2 separate regions of the Homo sapiens genome follow, and region 2 is linked to region 1. Evidence: fine-mapped expression QTL. A gene starts in region 1. The other region holds a variant in brackets. All regions are shown on one strand. Distances are from middle to middle.

Region 1 (9,303 bases):
TTTTCCACTCAGTAAATCTTTACAGTATTCTTTAAGTCACCTATCATACTTTTTTTTCTTTAGATAACCTCAACTTTATTTCCCTATGACTCCAAATGAATCTTGAGGTTCCAAATGAAGCTGAGGTTCTTCCCACTTTCCCCAATCTTGGAGGAAGAATCATCTCTCTCTTCTTCCGAAATCTCAACTGTAATTTTGAATGCAATCGTTGCTGCCTCCTTCCAGACAACCACTGTTGCCTCTACTATCATTCACCCCTACTGGCTCCTTCCCCAGAGCCAGTATACATATTTTTTTTTAAACCATTTTTTTTTTCAAGAAAGAGTCTTGCTCTGTCACAGGCTGGAATGCAGTGGTGCGATCTCGGCTCACTGCCACCTCTGCCTTCTGGGTTCAAGTGATTCTTGTGCCTCAGCCACCCGAATAGCTGAGATGACAGGCATGCGCAACCACGCCTGGGTAGTTCTTGCATTTTTAGTAGAGATGGGGTTTCACCATGTTGGCCAGGCTGGTCTCGAACTCCTGGTCTCAAGTGATCCACCCGCCTCAGCCTCCCAAAGTGCTAGGATTACAGGCATGAGCCACTGCACCTGGCCCAATATACATGTTTAAATCTCCCCTACTTATAAAACAAAATCTAAGCAACTCTTCCTTCAAATCTGATCCCACGCCTCAAGATAACATCCTTGTCCTCCCTTCAACAAACACCTTGGAAGAGAAACATACAATAGTACACTTCTTTTATTCTTCGTTCTATTTTTAATGTAATATTTGATACACATGTGTCAGGAAAATTGTGAAAAACTTTGAGATGGGAAAAAAGATTACTGGGTATCCTGTCTCCAGTGCACCCATTTGGTCCTTCTGAGCTATTTTACAACTCTGCACAGCTGTTGAAAACTGGTAATACAAATTATTGTCCATAAACATGCCAAAGAATTATGTCCAGTGGGATCTAATCAGTGATGACCAATTTTGCAACTATTTGTAAATTTACTTCAGCGTTCCTGATTGCATATATGTGTGTTACTTTGAATTCTCCCTTGACACATTTTTGATTCCCTTATAAATTTAATAATTTAAATGAAAATTCTGACACATATTCATTTCATATTTGTGTGAGAATCGTGATTTCACAAAAATTATTGCCGGGAACGGTGGCTCATGCCTGTAATCTCAGCACTTCGGGAGGCTGAGGCGGGCAGACTGCTTAGGAGTTTGAGACCAGTCTGGGCAACATGGTGAGACTCCTGCCCTAAGAAAAAATTATCAACACATGTGACACTTGTTGTTATCAAACAACATAATAAACATTTGTGAAAGACCAGTCAACTTATGACTACAACATCCCTAAGGAGAGCTAAAAGATTCCTCAAGGAAATGGCACGGGGATGTTGGCATATGTACATCAATAACAGCAATAGAAGATATAAAAAAGTAGCACAGAAAAGTTTAAACAGGAGTTTCATAAGAATTCTGTGCAAAAAAATGTCATTCCTTGCTGATGGGATCAGAGAAAGCTTCAAGGAAGAAGTGGGATTTGAGCGGGGTACTAATGTGCCAGTTCTTGCCATTCTTCCATCTTATTAAACTCAGATGACAACTCGCCTGTAGTCACTCGCTATACTGTGCTGTCCAATATAACCACTTGCCACATGTGACTACTGTTTCGTGGGTCTATTCTGAATTGAGGTGTATTTGAATATAAAATAGACAAGATTTTGAAGAGTTAACATGAAAAATTAATGTAAAATATCTATTAACTTTTTTATTGGTTACATGTTAATATTTTAATATGTTGGGGTAAACTACTTTAAAAAAGAACTACGACATCATCAATACTGTTGCATCTATCTGTATGTTCCTTCTCTACTTCATCTCCTTGCTTCCTGTCCAGAAGTAACCATTACCTTGAACTTTAAGATCATTCCCTTATTTTTTCCCCGACATTTGTCTGTATTCCTACTTTTGCCTATTTTTGAGCTTTAAAAATCATATTTTATTGTATGTGTGGATTAAATAATAGTATTTGTAATGTTAGAAAAGTGTCTAGTATGGGAGGCTGAGGCAGGAGAATGGCGAGAACCCAGGAGGCGGAGCTTGTAGTGAGCCGAGATCGTACCACTGCACTCCCGCTTGGGTGACAGAGCAAGACTCCGTCTCAAAAAAAAAGTGTCTAGTACATACCAAGTGATTTATAAGCATTTATTAAATAAAATTTAAAAATATGGTCTTCTGTGGTTGCTTCGTCTATTTTGTTTCTAAGACTTGTCCACGCTGTTAAATGCTGCTGTAATTCCTTATAATGAGAACAAGCTAATGTGTGACAATTGTAACTCATCCATTTTATTTGATAGACTTTTGAGTTACTCCCATCCCACCCCCAACCATGTTGCTATAGACATTCTTATACACATCTCCCAGTACACATGTACAAAATTTCTTCAGGATATACAAACATGCCTAGGAGCAAAACTGCCAAGTGCTAAAGTATATTAATATTCAACTTTACAAGATGGTGTCACATTATTTTTCAAAGCTGTATCAATTCATACTCCCACTCACGGTATATAAGCTTCTGTTGATCCACATTTGTGCTAACAATTGGTATTATCCATCTCAATTTTGCCAATCTTCTGAGTATAAAATGGTATCTCTCTGTGTCTTAATTTTTATTTCCTTGATTAGTAATAAGGTTAAACGTATATATTTCTATGTAATAAATGTTTCTGTTCATTTTTTCTTTTGGGTTGTCTTTTTCTTATGGATTTCTAATTTCTTAATGTATTGTGGACACTAATTTGTCAGTTAAATTTTATCTAGTCACCCTTCAACACACTAAATAATCTGAAATCTGTATGTATCACTTATTTTGGCAATGGCATTAATAACTTTCTCATTCTAAGTCTTAAAACATCTCTCTTGGTCTCCCCTCCCTATGTAATGTCTCTGCAGTATTGTAACCATTCTCGTCTAGTTCTCAGGTTTTCCCTACCTTGAACTTTCGTATCTTCCCCCTAAGCCCCCACCATTCTTCTTTTTCCTCATGTTTCTTGTAAGCTGGTTTCCTGGAAATTGGTATCATGGTCTGTCATTAACCTTCCTTTACATTCTACATGTACTTTCTCTAGTATCTTAGTTCCATAGCTTTAGCTACTACCTAATTGCTGGTGACTTTCAAATCTCTCCATATAACTGAGCTCCTGACTTTCATTTTCAATTTAACATATCTAACCATAATCTGTCCCTAAATACCTGTCATTCCAATTTCCTACCCTGGCTAGTGATATTACTAAGTGCTCAAGTTAGAAAGCTCCAAACTGCTGAAAGTTTAAAAGCTCAGAAAGAATTTATTATCTCTTATTTTTCCCAGATTTAAGCCATTAGTGACTACAACATAATTACTGAATGCTCAAGAAACGATACATAATACAAATCAGAGGCCAGAAGCTGGCAGCACATCTGTCCCAATGTTTTTTAAAATCAGGAAGTATTACAGGAAAAATCTAAATGGCTCTTTTTTCCTGAATAATGGGAAGATCTGGCAACACTGTCTCATAATCCTTCATGGCCACAAGCACAGCTGAGAAGGTGCAGGCAGATCCCTTTAAATTAACCAAAAGGATGCCAACTTGCCATAAACTTCATTTCCCTCCAGTATCTTACTACTGATTTACTTCACTGATTTATATTACCTGCTCCATTCTTCTTGTGAGCATTTGCCTTTCTAGGCCCTTGTGTTTGCAACCTCTGGTATACCTATATATGGCATAGGAATTCAAATAAATGATTCTGTGAAAGAGGTAGAAAATAAGCTCAGACTTTAAATAAAGGATGTGGATCAACAGTGTGGCCTAACAGAAAGAGAAACACAGCACAAGCTACAGCAATAAGGAAGGGAAAGCACAGGTATGTAGAGAAAGCCCAAAAGTTTTATCTAGAAGCAGCTTACAGCAACTAGGTAATCAATGACAGAGAGTGTGGCATAATGCTTTGGCATTAGATTCAAATCCCAGTTCCACTACTTAGTACTTAAGTGCTAAGCTAAGTTACTTAAGCCTAAGTTTGTGTTTCTTCAGCTACTGAGTTATTTAACATTTCTTCAATTAATGAAATACAATAGTATAGTTGTACTCAACACTTATTCATTTCTTCCACCACCTTATTTCATAGCAGAAGAACCTTGCCAGAGGCAGGTAAAGTGATTTGTCTAAGTTCACATAGCTGGCATAGAGTCAGAGCTTCCTTGTTTTTTACTCAGTTCAGGGTTATGTTTGTTTTTAAACCACACCACATCAATTAATAACAAGAATGACCTTTTACAGAGAGGAGAGGTCATTTTGTAGAATAGGAGGATATGACATTATGTAACACCAGAATGTAATATTTAAAAGTCTTAAGCATCTGAAAGAATTTCACTTATGTTTGGTAATTATATATAAAGGCTGTTTTATCTTAAGACACATTACACAGTAAGACATAACATACTACAACAACATCAAGTTTCTTGTAAGTTTAAAACCTTCATTAGCAACTTAGTAAAATGTTTACAAATTCTTCTAGGCTATAAAGAGTATTTATTACATTATTTAGGTGGCTGCCTCCTGACAAAGTCTAGCTCTTGTTCTTTGTTAACAAAAACCAAACTCATCAGCCTGCAACTACTTCTAAGTGAAGTGGAGCACTATTTTTTTTTTCGGTATTCAACTTAAAAGATCTCTGGCCAGCAGACTAAAATGTTTGTTTTATAATTGCCCGCTGAACTATGATAGTTTGTTTCCAGATGGTGCCCTTCCTTCAACCTGCACACAATCTCTCCTTGTTCAAAACTATTCAACCTCCTGCTGATCCCACCCCCCTATTTAAGGCTACAAAGAGGAAATCCTAAGGAGATTCCCGCCCCCAGTCTCCAGCAATTTTTGGTGATGTAATATGTGGGCTGAACTTGAGTCTACTGAGAAAGAGGGAATCACTATTCAGGGGTACTGTATATACAATCTGGGTCAGCTGCAGCTGGTTACTGCATTTCTCCATGTGGCAGACAGAGCAAAGCCACAACGCTTTCTCTGCTGGATTAAAGACGGCCCACAGACCAGAACTTCCACTATACTACTTAAAATTACATAGGTGGCTTGTCAAATTCAATTGATTAGTATTGTAAAAGGAAAAAGAAGTTCCTTCTTACAGCTTGGATTCAACGGTCCAAAACAAAAATGCAGCTGCCATTAAAGTCACAGATGAACAAACTTCTACACTGATTTTTAAAATCAAGAATAAGGGCAGCAAGTTTCTGGATTCACTGAATCAACAGACACAAAAAGGTATTTAATATTTCTTTTATTTAAAAATATTATGTATAGCAAATGCATAACTATTTTATATTTGTAGTAGAAATTTCAGAATCTTTTACTAAACAAAGACCTTTGGAATATACTACAGTTTATCTCATCTGAAAAAGGTTTTATCTTGCAACTTGACATAAAAACATTAAGTACTGTGCAATGGTTAATGCATTATTTGAGGTTCAATTTAATGATGTTTAGTGTATATGATTACAGACTGATACATGCATGCCATGCTGGGTTTCTGAAAACAAGTGCTTTAGTGACAGTAGAAAGAAATTTTAACAAGTAACAGATTAAATGTATAAGGCTTACAGCACAATGATTAAAAACAAAGGAATACAAACTAAATAGTCGTGAACACAATTAGTTTCTCTTCCTGCAGCCACAGTGTGTGTGCTGAAGATATACATAAACTGTTGGATTTCTCAGTGTAGTCATAAAACAAAGCTAAGATACAAAAATAGTTGAAAGTCTTTGCAACAAAATCTCAATTACAGTATAACCAAATATTAAGCAGAAATTCTTGTACAGATTTAAGATTAATCTATGGCATTTCTTGTTCCAACTCAAAATTTTAAATAGCTTTCCAGGCTTACATGTAATAGTAATTTAATTTGGATGACAGAAATTAAACTTGCTACAAATGGAATCACTTGGAAAAGCTAAGTTATTGATATACACACAAAAGCATTATGTAAGTGGTATTAACAATAGAAAATAAGAACCCAGAAGATGTAATTAAATTCATGACTAAAAGGCCAAAAATATGTAATATTTTAGGTAGAAATAATTTTGTTAAGCACACATAAGAGGTTTCCTTCAATATTCTATCTGGGAGCTTTTTTTACATGCATTATAAAAACTATTAAAGATAAAATTACTCGTTACCAATAGTATGCCTTAAACCAAAGACACTTAAGTTTGTTAGATTTGGGGCTCCTTTAGCCTTGTAAAAATTAAAGATATTAATGGTTAAGAATCTTGAACAAGCAAATAATGGTAAAGCTAAAATTTTTTCCAACTTTGCTTTTGTGTCCTTTCCTTAAAGATTTAAAACTGTAAATGCTGGCAGGATTTCTGTTAAACACATATTTTACAAGAAATTCTAACAAAATTTCCAAGCAACAGTGGATCTGAAATACTGTCATCTCTCTTTTTTGTTGTTGCATGCTATGGGAAGTGCAGGACTTCATTAAGCCTCAGTTCTTACTGACGCTGTCTTAAGGCAGGCATTTAATCTGAACCCCAAATTACACAGATAACTATTTATCCTTTTCTTAAATATATCCAGGGGATTAGATTGTTCTCAAGTCTCTTCCCAGAACATATTTCACAATCTAGAAATTCTTTATCTAACATATCCTGAATGCTTCATAAATTTAACTTCATTGCCTCATGCTGTTTTCAGTGCATGACACAGCCAGTTAAATGCCTCTGTGAGTTTACCATCTGAAAGGAGGCAAATCCTGACTTTCGTTTCTTCTCTCTACTAGCTGGCAATATAGCAACTATGAAGAGAAAAGCTACTAATAAAATTAACCCAACGCATAGAAGACTTTTTTTTCTCTTCTAAAAACAACTAAGTAAAGACTTAAATTTAAACGTAAGTATTCTATAACTAATTTATAACATTCTCTTGGGGCCTAGGAAAATTTTAACATATACAGAAAGTTTTATGAGGTAACATAGATTTATGGATCTTTTGCTTCAAAACTGAACATATGTGAGAAAATATTAAATAAGAGAATGTTTTCAGAAAACATAACAGTAAATGTATTTTTAAAACCAGTTCTTTACTCCTGACGTAGCTAGTCTACTACTTAAGAAATGTGGCTCCTTGCCCTGCTTTAAGTGACAGTGAAGCCAATACTTTTGTATTTATTAAAAAAAAATTATATTTATTTAAAAACTAAACTTTTAGTTGCCTCCTTTAAATGCTAATTTAGACCACTTTCTCTTATGGTAAACAGTGATTTATCTTATGATTTAATCTTATAGGAACCACAATGAGCCAAGGCAGAATACACACAAGGAAGCTGTTTTTGTTTTAATTTAGATTAGCATTTTGGTGTTTTTTGTTCTTCAATGACAACACTGATGCAAAGTCCTAACAGCAGTCTTGGATGATGCGCTTTTAGCTGTTTTATAAAAATCTGTGTCTGGTATTAATACAAGCTGTTCAATCAGAATATTGCTCATAAAATTCTATTTGTTTTAGAGTTTTATATTACTTCCTGCATTTTCCTTGTTTTGGTAGTTTATTTCATAGTAAATATTATTTAAGTAAAATAATTTTATGATCTCAGAGTTTCCATTCTAGTATTAAAATGAATGGACTTTAGCAGTGGTAAGTTAAATTAAATATATAGGAAAAATGATATGCATGTGCCCAGGAGGATGATGGCTTTTATTTCTTGTCCCTAGTTTTTAAAATAACCCATATCTAAATTCCACGAATCTGGAGATATAATAAATGTTTTATTGGTTTTTGGTATAGGTAACTCCTACATAGTAAAAGTCTATTTTTAAAAATAAAATAGATGACTGTTTCTAAATTTTCTATATATGTCAGAAAGCAAGGTATGAAAACATAAAAAGCTAAAAAAAATACCCATGTGTGCTTTGGCTATCAGTCAGCAAAAGAAGGCCTCGATAGAAATACAGATTGTTATGTCCTCCCTATCTTTTGTTTTCATTCCCTCTCTTGTTAGTAAAATAATAATAATTCTCCATACTCCATCTATATTTGCCTTATTTTCATTATCTACCCATTTTGAAGACACTATTCAATTGAAAAATACCAAAAAAGGAACATGGTTTTAGAAAGTGAAAGTAGCAGTAGTCTTCATGACGACAGCATAAGAGTTATATTTCATTGACATGACCTTTGTTTTCGGGAGGGGTCCATAATCATAGGTTAGATATATAACTATCAGCTGACAGAATACATACAGAAGGAAAGAAATTGCCGCAGAAGAGTCTGAGATGTAAAAAAATGATCTGGCAGAACGTGGACACAAATTCTACCAAAAATTATCCATAAATACTTTTGCATAATTAAGTAACCGGTCAATGAAAAGGGACATAAACCAGGAAAAGGCAGCGAAAAACAAGAAACATAAACTTAAGACTCCTCTGTGGTTATGACATGACTAGGGTAAAAATCATAGGTCTAGAAAAGTTAGGAGTAGAAGGTTTGAATCCCATTTGAGTGATTTAGCTTCTCAAGGATTTTCCTCCTTTATAAAATGATACAGCATTACTTCAGTGTTATAAATGCAAATAGTTAACATGTGTTAAGCTACATAAATACAGGGGATTGAAAACATGAACTCTGAAGTCTTCAGCCTGGATTCAAATTCTCGCTCCATCACTATGAACCTGTGTGACTCTTGATAATAAGGTACTTAACTTTTGGATGCCAAGTTTTCCATCTGAAAGTGGGGATCATAATAATCTACTTCATAGGGTTGTGGTGATAAGTAAAACATGAAAATGGCTTAAAACAGTGCCTAACACTGAACAAGCACTCAATAAATATTAATTACTGTTATTGTGTTGTTATTAACAACAGGCATAAACAACTTAGGAGCTGGTTTCTTAAATCAAGAAACAGGTACTTATGTGGAAATTTGGACAGAAAAGCTCTGTCTTAGGGTATCCACTGCCATCCTTCAAAAATGGCAGATAGGTATGAAGTTCGCAAGAGTGAAAAGGTGGCCTGTAATAGACCAGCTCGTTAGTAGATCTGACAGAGTGAACATACCTTACCCATTCTACTTCTGCTACTCTTGTGGGAGGTAACTAGAGAGAAAGGAAAAAGTCTTGGCTCTTGAAACTGTTTCCTCAGAAGAATTTGTACTATAAAGAAGTATTTCTCATCTGCTACAGCAAAAACGAAACATTCTAAGCACATATTTTAGTATAGGTGCTGCTTCTATAAATACTGACTATGGGT
Region 2 (9,303 bases), 74 kb before region 1:
AGGTTGCAGTGAGCTGAGATTGTGCCACTAAACTCCAGCTTGGGCGACAGAGTGAGACTCTGTCTGAAAAAAATAAATAACTAAAACAAAAAATAAAAAAGAGATGAGGTCTTTTTTATATTGTCCAGGCTGGTCTCAAACTCCTGGGCTCAAGGGATCCCTCCGCCTCGGCCTCCCAAAGTCCTGTACTGGGATTGCAAATGTGAACCACCACACCTGGTCATGATTTTTTTTTTTTTCTTTCCCAAGATGGAGTCTCGCTCTATTGCCCAGGCTGGAGCATGATCTCGGCTCACCGCAACCTCCGCCTCCCAGGTTCAAGTGATTCTTCTGCCTCAGCCTTCTGTGTAGCTGGGACTACAGGCATGCACCACCACGCCCGGTTAGTTTTTGTATTTTTAGTAGAGACGGGGTTCCTCTATGTTGGCCAGGCTGGTCTCAATTTCCTGACCTCGTGATCCACCCACCTCAGCCTCCCAAAGTGCTGGGATTACAGGCGTGAGCCACTGCGCCCGGCCAATTTTGTTTTTTTAATATACTGTATTTTGTAGAGCAATGTTAGGTTCACAGCAAAGTTGAGCAGAAAATACAGAGAATTCCCATATATGCCCTGCCCTCACACACAATCTCCTCCACTGTCAACTTCCCAAATCACAGTGGTACCTATACTGACGCGGCATCATCACCCAGAGTCCATAGTTTACATTACCATTCACTCTTGGTGTTGTACATTCTATGAGTTTGGGAAAATGTATAATCACATGTATCCACTATTACAGTATCACACAGAATATTTTCACTGCCCTAAAAATCCTCTGTGCTCCATCTATTCATCCTTCCCTCACCCCTAGTCCCTGGCAACGACTGTTCTTTTTACTGTCTCCATAGTTTTGCCTTTTCCAGAATGTCATATCGTTGGAATGATACAGTATATGGGCTTTGCAGTCTTCTCCATGCCTTTTCGTGACAGCTCATTTGCTTTTATCACTAAATAATATTTCACTGTCTGGGTATACCACAGTTTAGCCATTCATTTACTGAAGGACATCTTGGCTGATTCCAAGTTTTGGCAATTATGAATAAAGCTGCTGTAAACATCTGTGTGCGGTTTTTTTTTTTAAATGGACATTAATTTGCAATTTATTTGGGTAAATACCAAGAGGCATGATTGCTGGGTCATACAGAAAGAGTATGTTTAGTTTTATAGAAACTGCCAAAGTGTCTCCCAATGTGGCTGTACCATTTTGCATTCCCACCAGCAATGAATGAGAGTTCCTGTTGCTCCTCATCCTTGCCAGCATTTGGTGTTTTTGGATTTTGGCCATTCTAATAGGTGTGAAATCGGACCTTGTTTGAAATACGTGTTTGATGTACTAGCTATGTAGTGTGTGAATATTTAGAGTAATGTTCATAGTTTAAGGAGTGATGATTGTTAAAAATGCATAAGATTAATAAATGGGCATTGAGCCAGGTGTAAACAGTAGTTGGTATTCCTCTCCATGCCTGGGAATTCTACAGATTTGCAGCGCCTTGAATATGACATGAACAGTGCAGGACTGTGTACCAGGTGGAGGTGGCTAGGGACCACATTCTCTCCATGGTAGTATTTTGAGGGAGTGTCAAGGGAAGATGGGTCAATCAAGGTTGGAGAGGGTGGACACAGGACTTGGGGCGGAGGTGGCTAGGGAGGGCCGCATTGCTCTCTATGATGGACTAGAAGCATTTTGAGGGGAGTGTCAAGGAGAAAAGGGTCAACCAAGGTTGGAGAGCATGGGGGAAAAGCAATATGGCAGAAGATCAAAGCCCAGGATTGTGTCAATGGCCAAGGAAAAATTTAATAGGGTGTTTAATATTTCATTTGATGTGAGTAGCATTGCTGTGATGTGAACCTTCTTTGTTTTTATAAGTTGGCTACACTATAAATGCCTTACGTGAGTGGTTTTTATGAAACTCCAGGAAAAATGTCCATGCCTGCATCCATGAGGGACAGAAAGAAGGAACAGCCATGGGCAGGGGGAGGTGAGTGAGACTGAGATACTTGTGGCAACAGCCTGAAGTGACTTCATTAATGTGGTTCCCCTCCCTCCAAGGACTGCTTAGGGATGTTGTGACAAGGAAGTGGGTGAAAAGGTAACAGGTGACATATGATGCAGGCGTGTTCGAGCCAGCCCTTATCAGCTTGCAAGTTGATTGTTAAATTTGCAGGAATTTTGGTGAGCCAGATATTAAACCATTGGTAGAGTGAAGTCAACCACAATGGGAGGTATTCTAATATTAACACCACAGAAACTGGTACAAACATTACAAATCAGCACTCGCCCCCCCCACCCCCTGTCCACAGCCTGTTAAACATTGACCAGCACACCACCACATATGAGGCCATTTCTTTTCTTTTTTTTCTCCCTTTTTAGAGATAGGGTCTCGCTCTGTCACTCAGGCTAGAGTACAGTGGCTCTACTGTACTCTACTGTTTGAGCTCACTGTAGCCTCAAACTTCTTGTCTCAAGCAGTCCTCCCACCTCAGCCTCTGGAGTAGCTAGGACTATAGGCATGTGCCACCACACCTCACTAATTTAAAACTTTTTTTTTTGTAGAGATGGGGTCTTGCTATGTTGCCCAGGCTGGTCTCAAACTCCTGGCCTCAAGCAATCCTCCAACTTTGGCCTCCCAAACTGCTGGGACTACAGGCGTGAGCCACTGTGCCCAACCGTGAGTCCATTTCTGATCTTGCTCCCATCCTTTTTCCAGGCTCATTTTGTGTTACTTCCTGTTTTCACCCAGATGCCAAAGCAGTCACAATTTCTACCTCCTGGTCTTCTGCAAATACACTGCCCTTACCCTGGCTCCTTTCCAGTTTTCAACTGAAATATCACCTCCTGGGGCTGCTGCCAGCACAGACAGTGCTTGAACACCTTAGGAAAAGGTGTCTGACCCCATGGGGCCCCTCCTTGTGCTCCCCTCCCATCCTCTCCCCTACAGTTTGAGGTCCTTGAGTTGGGCCTGCACATTCACTCATTTCTGAATGAGGAGAGCCTGGTGTGGACCGGACCCTCTCTCAGCTTCTGCAGAACTAATCTCTCCTGGTAGTTTTGTGCCTCAAGGACAGTCATGGTGGGACCAAGTGGCGGCTGATGCCGTCTTTGAAGTTAGAGGGAAAAGTCTGCAGAGCTTCCCTGGATGAGGCGAGGTGAGGGGCAGCAGGGGGCGCGTGCGGATGACAGGGAATTAAAGAGAAGACCCCTCATGTGCTGAGGCCTGAAGCTCCACTCCGGTGTGGCAGGATTTCTGGCCTGCGCCTGCCTCTATTGTGGAGGGAGGAACCAATATCACAGCGTGAACTGGTCCCCAGGGCTCTGGGATGGCTCCAAGGTGTCCCTGCATCAGACCACGCTGTCTCTGGGCCGCCCTCTGTCTCTGCTGTTGCTCCCGGTCAGAGCCATTTTCTGACTTGTCGGCAGGACTGGAAATGGTGACTTGAATGAAAAATTCAAGCTGCAGGGAAAATTTTTAGGGCTGCAGAGAGAACTGCTCTCGGGGCTTTTACAAGGCTCTCTTTTCCCAAAGACGGCGCCATCCCAGAGCATTTAAAACTTGTCCCTGCCCTCAGCTCCACCAACTCCTGTTAGAAGGGAGGGGAGGGAAGATGAAGAGAAACACAGGGGAAGATGCCTGCTGAGTCAGCCCTGGGAACCGAAAGACAGAGCCGGCCCCTGCACGCCCTGCCTCCCCTCGGTTCACCAAGGACAGGCAGCAGTCAGGAGGGGCTGCCAGAGACTGTGCCCTCACACCCGCTTCCTTACTCGGAGCAGCGCCCATCACAAACCCTATTGACTTTAGAATGCTGTGTATTGCTTAAAAATCCGTACTGATGCAAGCCAGTCTTCCTAAGGGTGGTCACTGTCGCCATCCCCAGCAGGAGAGTGCTTCGGGAACCAAGAAAGTAAGCGTCCACGCCCGCCTGGTGCAGCAGAGAGGAGTCCTGCCCAGGTGCCTGGCCCGTCCCAGGCTTGGTTGGGACA[T/C]GCGCTTCAGCTACCTTACCTCTCTGGTTTCAGATTCCCCTCTGAGTGGCCAAGATTTCTTTTCCTGGAAAGCCGAGCACCTGTTTTTCCCGAGCCTCTGGTGCCCAAGCCATCACCACTGCTTTCCTGGGAACCACTCCAGGGTGGTTGACTTGGTACCTTGCAGAAACCCTTTTGCTCAAAAAAAAAAAAAAAAAAAAAAATCTACCTCTGAGCCAGGCGTGCCTGCCAGGAGAGACCTGGGAATATGAAATTCCTTAGAAGGTTTGCTCTGAGGCTGAAAGCAACTAAATGGCTGAATGGGATCATGTGGAGCTTCTTGTCCTTCTAACCTGAGAAACTCAAGCATCACATATTTTCTTGTATCTTCTTTCTCCCTTTTCTACTTAAGACTAAAATAGGTGCTCAAATAGGCGACCGTCCTGCTGCCTCCATCGAAACACACTATGGCTCTAAGACGCAAAGATGCAACTCTTTTTGTGACTCGTGGACATGGGGTCATCCCTCAGTGCTCATTGTGCTCTTGACATAAATGATGACCCTGCAAACAGCTACTGGGTGCTGCCTATAGGCCAGCATTGTGTTAAGCAGTGTACAGGCACCATCTCATTTAATCATTTCAACTACGTTGTGAGGAAGGGAAGTATTATTTTTGTCATCATTTTCCAGGTGAGAAAACCAAGCCTCAGAAAGTTATGAAGCTGATCACACAGTTCATATGCAGTGGTGTTGGAATGTAGACTCAAATATTTCGGACTCGGGGTACAATACTGCCTTCCTGTGACTTGTAAATTCAGTCCAGTTGTGAAGTGCAAAGTCTCACTTGGACTGGTAATATGGTTTGGCTCTCTGTCCTTACCCAAATCTCACCTTGAACTGTAGTAATCCCCACATGTCATGGGAGGGGCCCGGTGGGAGGTAAGTGAATCATGGAGGTGGGTATTTCCTGTGCTGTTCTCATCATAGTGAATAAGGCTCACGAGATCTGATGGTTTTATAAAGGGGAGTTCCCCTACACATGCTCTCTTGCCCGCTGCCATATAAGACATGTCTTGCTACCCCTTTGGCTTCCACCATGATTGCGAGGCCTCTCGAGCCATGTAGAACTGTGAGTCGATTAAACCCCTTTCTTTTATAAATTACCCAGTTTTGGGTATGTCTTTATTAGCAGCATGAGGACAGACTAATAGAACTGGTCTTTGGACAATAGACAAACTATAACACCAATCCTTTTTTTTTGAGATGGAGTCTCACTTTGTCACTCAGGCTGGAGTGCAGTGACGTAATCTCGGCTTACTGCAACCTCCGCCTCCCGGTTTCAAGTGATTCTCCTGCCTCAGCTCCCTGAGTAGCTGGAATTACAGGTGCCCGCCACTACGCCCAGCTAATTTGTGTATTTTTAGTAGAGACGGGGTTTCACCATATTGACCAGGCTGGTCTCAAACTCCTGATCTCAAGTGATCCACTTGCCTTGGCCTCCCAAAGCTCTGGGATTACAGGCGTGAGCCACTGTGCCCGGCCTAGTCCTGTTTTGAGAAAGTAGAAAATGCCATCCCTAGACAATCTCTGTCAACACATTATTAAAAGGTTAAATTAGTGTAAGTTTACCAGTTGCTGACAGACATTGAACTTCTTTGGCCTGGGTTTTTCTCTACAAGTGGTGTTTTCCCACTTCCATGTTGTACCCAGGAAGTATGATGTTGGACCATCTGAAGTTGGTGTTATTGTAGGTCAATACCGATAGACTATCAGCAATTTCATGTGAGTCAACCTAATCACAGATACTGCAGCTTGAGAAGCCTTTACTATCTTTACCACCCCATCCCCCCAAACCCTCAAGCAATAATTCTTTCTGCCCCAATTTTACCCTCACTTCAAGTTCCAGCTAAAATAATGCCAGCTCCTCCAAGAAGCCTTTCTCGAATTCTCAACTGGAAACAGTCTTTCCTGAACTTCCACAGCACCTGATTTGTACCTCTCTTCACTATCTTCTGGACATATTGGTTGTGTATATGTGTGCATTCTTTTGCCTGGTCAAGGAGCCATGTCTAATTTTTTTGTTTGTTTGTTTTTGTTTTTGAGATGGAGTTTTGCTCTTGTTGCCCAGGCTGGAGTGCAATGGTGCAATCTCGGCTCACTGCAACCTCTGTCTCCTGGGTTCAAGCGATTCTCCTGCCTCAGCCTCTGGAGTAGCTGGGATTACAGGCACCTGCCACCATACCCGGCTAATTTTTTGTATTTTTAGTAGAGACAGGGTTTCACCATGTTGGCCAGGCCGGTCTCAAACTCCTGACCTCAGGTGATCCACCTGCCTTGACCTCCCAAAATGCTGGGATTACAGGCGTGAGGCGCCTGGCCAGCCATGTCTAATTTATCCCTATCTGATCAGCTCTCAGCATAATATCTGGCACATGGTAGCTGCTGGTTAAGAGTTTACTGAGCTCAGCTGTATGACTTTCTGCTCTTGTGGTGGCAGTGTCTATCCCAGGGCTTCACACTCTAGCTTGTAGGATAATCTGAGCAGAAATCGGGGAATGGGGGGTAGTCCTCCCAGTCTCTCCCACCCCCACCCTGGTACCTTCTCGGGAAAAGGGTAGTGAAAGTGCACCTCTGGCCCTGCTTGGGTGGAGAGTAGCTGAGAAGCCCTCTCTGAGTGAGACTGAATGAAAGGCTCAGGTGAGGATCACTTTAGATGTGCCAGGGACAGGGCCCTTTTAATGTCATTCTACCTCAGAGAAACATCTCCCGAATCCGGCTGATTGGCAGAGCCACAGCCACAATTTCAGTCATTGCCTCATGTACCGTCTCAGGAAGTGGTCTGCTGGCCGGTGAGTCAGAAGGCAGGGGCTCTGCATTTTCCCCACTGACTACGTTCTGGAAAGGATCCCCTGGCAGCCCTTCCCTCCCAGGCTTGATTAAAATGGAAGGGATTAGTGAATTTGTGTTTCCTCCAGAGAGGCGAAATCCACACAAACTGAGTCGGCTTCGTCTCTAGAAAATGTTGATGGTAGAAGACTGCATGCTCTTGAGTAGCTCATCTCAAGAGCTGTGGTTTCCTCTTTGTATCTCCTGGCTTAAAAGCATGACAGGAAAAGGGGGAAGCCAGGATTTGAAGTGGCTGACAATCTCCATCTCTTTGTGGGCAACTACCCAGTGCAGACTCCAGATCCAGCACAGTCTCCAAATCCAGCGCAGTGGAGCCAGCATATGGGAGACATGGGGTGCGGGGGAGAACACAGGCGGAGACGGAGGGCTGTTGGGTCTTCCAGGCACCAGCTGTGTGACCTGGGCAGCAGGACCCCTCCGGGTCATGCTGCACCTCACTTTCACCACCTCTCCTGTCTGCCAGCCTCAAGTGAGAATGCAGATGGTGCAGGCAATACTGCTGAAAACAAGTTCAGGGGCACAAAACCCAACCGCAAACACACATAAGAAAGTACTTAGAAAAATCATAAAGAGCTGCATGAATGTAAAGAATCAATATTATCCACTCAGTCCTTAACTCGCTTACTGAGTGGTTAGGAGATGCTAGGCAGTATGGGCAGTGCCTGGACACAGATGAAAGCTCCTGGCCCTCGAGGAAGTCAGACAGCAGTGGGGAGACAGACAAAGACAAGAGGAATCACCAACGCTAAGCAAAGACACAGGCGTGAAAGCATGCAGGAGCACGCAAGAGACTGTGTTGAGGAGCCGGTAAAGTGGCAGGGGTGACCCGGGGGAAACAGGATGGGGAAGGCAAGGGCGTTCCAAGCACGGGAGCAGCACAGGCAAAGGCTCTGAGTCAGGGAGACAATGATGCATGGGGGGGGACCTCCAGCTGTTGCTCATGGTGGGTGGGAGGGTGCAGGGCAAGGGCTGCAAGGCCGGAGCCTGTGAAGGTGGGCAGGATCGGATCACGGAGGGCCTTGGAAGCCATGCAAGTTGCTCCAGTGTGCTCTGGAAATGAGGAGGCCGCTGCGGGTTTTTATTCGTATTTATTTATTTTGGAGGCAGTCTTGCTGTACCGCCCAGGCTGGAGTGAAGTGGTGCGATCTCACTGCAACCTCTGCCTCCCGGGTTCAAGCAATTCTCATGCCTCAATAGCTGAATAGCTGGCATTAGGCATGCACCACCACGCCCAGCTAATTTATTTTTTTTATTTTTAGTAGAAACGGGGTTTCACCGTGTTGCCCTGGCTGGTCTCAAACTCCTGATCTCAGGCAATTCGCCCACCTTGGCCTCCTAAAGTGCGGGGTTTCAGGCATAAGCCACTGCGCCCAGCCCCACTGCAGGTTTTTAACAGGCCCGTGGCAGGAGCGGATGTGGGTTTCAGGGAAGATCACCACGGCTGCAGGGTGCCCGCATGGAGGCGGAGAGCATGCTGAGGAGCCAGCCTAGCCCCATCGGTAGCAAGCAAGGTAGTGGAAACCCAAACTGAGAGGCAGTGGGCGTGGCACCTGTGTGAACAGGAGTCAGGAAATTTAAGTATGAAGGAAGCTGCATGTGGAGACTTAGTAAGTAATTGGATGAATGGGTTTAGGGAAGGTAGGAGGCTGGGATGCCTGTGGGACGTGGGCTGGTGAGAACCTGGTGCTATTTTCAGAACTGGGGATGCAGGAAGAGAGTCAGGTTAGGGAGGGAGATGAAGAGTTCTATTTTGAGTATCCTGAACTTCCTTCCTTTTAAGTGGAAAATAGCATTTCCCCTCCTTTATACTATCAATTTGTTTCGTTGAAATGTCCTTTGCTGCAAAAAATTTTTCAGGACACCCAGAAGAATACATAAGTGAATAAAAATTCTCAATTCTATTACTTGGAGATAGTTAACATATTGGTGACTGTTCTTCCAAATCTTTTTTCTCTGCACGTTAATTCTAAAAAACATAATTAGGGGCCAGGTGTGGTGGCTCACACCTGTAATCCCAGCACTTTGGGAGGCCGAGGCAGGTGGATCACCTGAGGTCAGGAGTTCGAGACCAGCCTGGGCAAAATGGTGAAATGCTGTCTCTACTAAAAATACAAAAATTAGCTGGGCGTGGTGGCGTATGCCTGTAATCCCAGCTAGTAGGGAGGCTGAGGCAGGAGAATTGCTTGAACTCAGGAGGTAGATGTTGCAGTGAGCTGAGATTGTGCCATTTCACTCCAGCCTGGGTGACAAGAGTGAAACTCCATCTCAAAAAACAAACAAAAAACAAAATACATAAATAAGATAGAGTATAACACCTTAAAAAACTTTTGGTGCTCAGGCGTGCCCTAGATCAATATAATCAGAATCGCTGGGGGTTGGGGACCAGGCCTCAGTGTTT

What was found.
Region 2: its variant is fine-mapped to the expression of ANGPTL1 in skeletal muscle (GTEx, PIP 0.96).

The regions. Positions count from the first base shown.
Region 1 is chr1:178,866,759-178,876,061 of GRCh38, reverse strand. ANGPTL1 (angiopoietin like 1) reads left to right here and starts at 4,985. Exons shown (of 6, transcript NM_004673.4): 1 at 4,985-5,321; 2 at 6,839-6,948. All of the region lies in intron 8 of RALGPS2 (Ral GEF with PH domain and SH3 binding motif 2), which reads right to left.
Region 2 is chr1:178,940,571-178,949,873 of GRCh38, reverse strand. No RefSeq gene overlaps it. Among named protein-coding and RNA genes, the nearest start is that of ANGPTL1, 74 kb to the right of the region's middle. RefSeq lists an enhancer at 2,801-3,586 and a silencer at 6,994-7,194. The variant T/C (reference allele first, on the strand shown) is at 4,020.